2 separate regions of the Homo sapiens genome follow, and region 2 is linked to region 1. A link means that fine-mapping ties the variant in region 1 to the expression of a gene that starts in the linked region. Tissue or cell type: hypothalamus. Region 1 holds a variant in brackets; the other region holds the start of a gene. All regions are shown on one strand. Distances are from middle to middle.

Evidence for each region. PIP is the estimated chance that this variant, and not a neighbour inherited with it, causes the effect.
Region 2: FZD10-AS1 starts here. The variant in region 1 is the best candidate, but not a certain one, in a credible set for the expression of FZD10-AS1 in hypothalamus (GTEx, PIP 0.60).

Annotation. Positions count from the first base shown.
Region 1 is chr12:130,042,357-130,044,956 of GRCh38, reverse strand. No RefSeq gene overlaps it. Among named protein-coding and RNA genes, the nearest start is that of LINC02418, 1.3 kb to the right of the region's middle. The variant T/G (reference allele first, on the strand shown) is at 1,003.
Region 2 is chr12:130,160,160-130,162,759 of GRCh38, reverse strand. FZD10-AS1 (FZD10 antisense RNA 1) reads left to right here and starts at 1,082. Exons shown (of 4, transcript NR_033834.1): 1 at 1,082-2,103. FZD10 (frizzled class receptor 10) reads right to left here and starts at 296. Exons shown (of 1, transcript NM_007197.4): 1 at 1-296. RefSeq lists enhancers at 683-1,249, 1,250-1,816.

The DNA of each region.
Region 1 (2,600 bases):
CTATTTGAGGACACCAGGCCTTGGCTGTTTCTGCTTCTTGTACCTCCTGAGTCAGGTGGCGGTGGGGGAGGGCAGACGCCACACACACCTGGGTCCACTGGCCGCACGGCTCCTGGAAATGCTAGTGTGACTTTCCTAAGGGTTCTTTCAAAGGACACTTTTAGACCTGCCTTTTGTCCCAAGGATTCTAGTTGCTTCATCTTTAGTACCACAGACTGGTGGCTAAACAACGAACATTTACTCTGCCAGGACAACCTCGCTGCCCTCGTGGTTCCCAGCACCCGCCCGGACCTCCACACCAGGCTACTGTTTCCCCAAACGAGTGAGTGTCCTACTCCCTTCCGGCAGCCCTGACCTTCTCCTGCCTCGGATTCTTTCATTCTCTTCTCGGCTCCTAAATTCAAGCTCCCCTTATAAAGCTCAGCCCAGATTCCCATGATAACGTGCTCTGCGATTATTTGCCGATTCCATCAACATTTTTTGAGTACCTGTTGTGTGCCTGACACCTACGGCACTCAGAGCTGGAAGTGGATCCAGCTGTGAGCAGAACACAGACCCTCGGGGATCCCCCAGCCTGCTGGTAGAGACGACCCCCATCCAGGGAGATGCGGGAGCACCGAGGAGAAGCCCCAACCCTGGGGTTCATGGATGGCTTCCTGGAAGAGGAAGCAAGGTGAAGTCAGAGGCTAAAAATGCACACATTTGCAGGTGTTGAGCAAGTAGTGTGGACGCGTGAGCGATGAGGCACAATAGAGCATGAAGGCGCGGGCGGTGGCAAAGGGAACTTCGCCATCTGGGGAGGCATCCTCTGCCCAGCTTTGATCACTCCCTGGGATGTGAATAGGAGTTTATCTTGCCAGATATATGATCTTCCAAGGTCACAGGATTTTGCGAATTTGTATCAGATTTCTCAGTTTTTAAATGTTGCCAACTTGTAACTTTTTAAAATAGTCAGTGGACCATACAAGACACAACTGTAGGCCAGGTGTGTTCTGCAGGCCC[T/G]TGTTGCAACATCTTGTCTAAGTGGAATTCAGCCAGGTGAGAAAACAGTAAACAGGCAGAGGACTGGCAGGTCCAAAGGCCCTGTGGGGGAGAGGGCCTCCCCTGTGATGTCCATGTGTACTTTCACCTATTTGGCAAATATTTATCCATCCCCACCAGATGTCAGCCACTGTTTGGGAGGTGTGTGTGCACACATACAAACACATATGCAGGCATGTGCGTATGTGTGCATTTGGAGCAATGTATGTGCTACACATTTGTATGTGTGTATATGTTTGCAGGTGTATTATGCATGTACACATGTGTGTACATGTATTCAGGGGTATATGTGTGTATATATGTGCATGTGTTTTTATGTATGCACGTATATAGTGCATGTGTGCATGTGTGTATATGTATGCAGGTGTACATATGCACACGCGTGCATGTGTGTATACGTGGGTGTATTGTGTGCATGTGTGTATATGTATGCAGCTATATGCGTGTGTGCATGTGTGTATGTAGTGTATGTATATGCACCATGCATATGTGCATGCCTGTGTAAGTCCATATATATGTGTGCACATGCATGCACGCGTGCATGTGTATGTACATGTGTTCATGTATGTGCGTGTAGGTGTGGGTAAATGTATGCGTGTGTGTGCATGTGTTCATGTATGTGCATGCAGGTATGGATAAATGTATGCTTATGTGTGTGCGTGTGTTCATGTATGTGCATGCAGGTATGGGTAAATGTATGCATATGTGTGTGTGTGTTCATGTATGTGCGTGTAGGTATGGATAAATGTATGCATGTGTGTGCGCACACATTCATGTATGTGCGTGTAGGTATGGGTAAATGTATGCATGTGTGTGCACGTGTGTTCATGTATGTGCGTGTAGGTATGGGTAAATGTATGCATATGTGTGCGTGTGTTCATGTATGTGCGTGTAGGTATGGATAAATGTATGCATGTGTGTGCACGTGTGTTCATGTATGTGCGTGTAGGTGTGGGTAAATGTATGCATGTGTGCATGTGTGTTCATGTATGTGCGTGTAGGTGTGGGTAAATGTATGCATGTGTGTGCGTGCATATGCCACATGCATGTTTGCACATGGGCTTGCATGAACATGTGTATGAGTGTGTGTATGCATGTGTGTATGCATTTGCACCAGTGTGTTTGTGTGTGGATGATATCCGCTCCTGGCAGGTCGTGTTTTCTGGGCCTCATTCGGCCCAGCGGGAGCTCCTCGGCTGAGGCCGTACTGGAGGGGGCTGGAATCCTCCCTGGGGAAGCGCGTGGCTCGGGGTGTTGGCCTGGAGTGAGCTCAGCAGGAATTTGGGTCAGAGGAGCTCCTTGGGGGTGGGGACAAAAGGATCCACACAAGCCCTTGAGGAGTGCGGTGGGGCTCGCGTGTCGGGGCTCGCGCGGGGGGCGTGGGGCACCTGGGGACATCTCTGAGGTGGGAGCCGCGGGAGCGCCCAGGCGCTGTTTCCAGCCAGTGCAGCCTCCCCGCGCGGGTCCCGGCTTCGAGAGACGCGCGTACGCCGCCCCCTAGTGGAGACAGCGGGCCCTGCAAGCTGCCGCGGAGATGCTCTCCCGGTGTCTGATGGGAG
Region 2 (2,600 bases), 120 kb before region 1:
GTTGGGGGCCGCGGCGGAGAGCAGCAAAGTTTGCAAACAATACCGGGAAGCGAGGGAAGCCCCCGGAGCTCCCGGCGCAGCGGCCCGGCGCGAGCTCCAACTCACGGCCGCGGCAAACTTCGGCCTCTTCTTGGAGCGCCCAGGTGGCGCGTCTGGAGCGGGCTGGCGGCGCGGGCACACCGAGGCCGGCCCAGCTCGCGGCGCCCCCACAGCCCGGGCGGCTCCTCCCTCCCTGCGCCGGCCTCGGCCGGGACCAGCCGGCAGCTGTTTCGAGGTTTGCGTCCCGGGATGAGAAGACTCGCAAAAAGGCAAAGGGGGGCAGAAAAGCCGAGCGCTGACAGGCCCCGCCCCCGGGCCGCGCGCCCCGCCCCGCCGCTGCTTTGCATGAGAAAGCGCAGCGGCCCGGGGCAGCCTCCTCCCCGCCGCCCCGCCGCGGGCTCCCGGGCCCCGCGGGGGCCGATCCCCCCCGGCCTGCAGCCCAGCCTGCGGGGGGCGCAGCGCCTAGTCCCGCCCGCGTCGCCCGCCAGCCCCGGGACAGCCCGCCTGGCGCGCGGGGCTCTGCGCGCTGCGACCCTCCCCGGCAGTCCCGCCCGCCTCTCCTCGCCCTCTCTCTGCCTGGCCTCCAACTTTGCCTCTCGCTATCCTCTCCGCCGGCGCCCCCTTTCCCGGCGGTCCCCGGGATGGTCCCCGGCACCCCGAGGACGCCGAGGTTACGGGAAGTTCGGGGACTGGCGGGAGAAGGGGTTTGGGGGTGGTCCGCGGCGAGGGGCGCGGGGTGCATCTTCTCTTCCTTTTATGGTGAGTCCCGGGCGGAGGGCGCTTTCAAAGGGAGGTGGGATTTGCGTTTTATAGCCTGGGCCATAAAGTAGGCCCTTGCTTGTAAACCTGCCCGCATCTTCCTGAGGCTGGGGAGGTGCTACCAGCCCCGGGCTCCGGGCTCCGAGGAGGGATTTTCTTTGAAATTTCAAAGAGACGAGCTAAGGGGAGGGGGAGGGGCTCGAGAATCCGGATTTTAGGGCCGCTCATCCGAGGTCTCCTCTAAGAAGGCGGGAAGGGGGAGGGGCGGGAAGCGTCCCGGGACTTTGAACACCGCCTCCCACCCCGCGGGAAGTGCGGGCTTGGTTTGTACCGCGGTGACCCCCGCCCCCTCCGAAGCCGCAGAGCCGGGGCCTCGCGCCAGCAGGGCTGGAGATGCCTTCTTGGCGGCTGAGTTTATTTATTATAGGAAGTCATTCGCTCGTGGGGTATTTATGTGATTTGGCGAGTGATGTGCCCGGCCAGCGCCCTCCTTGGCTGCAGCCCCGCAGGAGGACCCGGAGTAGGGTGGGATGGAGTGGGTCGTGGGAGGAGCGCGTCAGCGCCTGCCCGGGGACCCCCAGCTCCCGCGAGGACACGGAGGCGCGCACGCCGCTCGGTTTTCCTGGAAAGTGGAGAAGGAGCGTCCTGGGCAGGTCCTCTGAGCTCATCCCCCCTCGGATTGGGGCGGGTCTGTGACGGGGTCACTTAGGACACGACGTCCCCCCGCCATTCCCTTCCCCCGCCCAGGGCGTTCGCGGTGGGCGCCCACCGCCAAGCCCCACTGTTCCCAAGGATGCGCCAGGTGCTTCCCGTAGCGTCCTGGGTTGACCCTTAAAAAAACAGCACCCCTAGGAGGTGGCCGGCCCTCTCCTCCCAGGGTCTCTCCGGGTCACGATCTTCCAAAGTTCGGAAACTCGCAGGATCGCGTGTGCAATCTCCCGCTACCTCCCGGGGGGCCGGGGAGAGGTCAGAGGAGCGAGTCCCGCGTCCACCGGCCTCGCTTGCCCCCTGCCCGTTTGAGGATAGTTCCAGGGAGCAGGGTGGAGTGTGCGGACATCTTTGGAGGCAGTGCTGGGGCTTCCCGCGTTGGCGGCGCTCCACCCGGCGTGGGGGGCGGCTGCACGGGCCCCCGCGGTGGGGACGCTGCGCACGGGGCAAGGTCTCCCTAGGAAGCGCCCGGGAAGGAGATGGGGCCCGCCAGGAACCCCCCTCACTGACCAGCTTTCTGCACGCCGTGCAGGAGGGGGCCACTTCCTCGGAGAGTATTGGCTTTTAATTAAAACAAGCCCTACAATTTTTACATCGGTAAGAAACTTGGGGAAATCTCACCTTTCCACTCATTCATTCATCCGTTCAACAGACATTTGAGCGCCCAGAATCCCAGAATTAATAGGCAGGTTCAGGCACCCACCCCTGGGTCGCTGTCCCTGGGTGTCCTGGGTCTCACTAGGAGGTGCTGGAGGAAGTCGGGGTGAGGGAGAAAGTGAAAAAGAAGGTAGAAACTCCGGGCAGTTAGAACACCACCTTCAACTGTGTTATTTCCCAAGTGAAAAGTTGCATGATTTTATTTTTGAAAGACTGCCATTTTTATTATAGTGTTTTTTTTTTTGTTGTTGTTGTTTTTTGTCTAGTGAGTAATTTTTCAGGACCTTTAAATTAAAATTAATTCAGCGGAAATCACTTGGCTTTTCTAGAATTTTCCTGGCAAAGGTCCTTCCTGGGCCCTATTTTCCTTCTTTTCCTTTTTGTGTCTCTCCCTCAGCAACTATTAGAAATATTTAGTGCAAGAGTGAGAGCCAAAC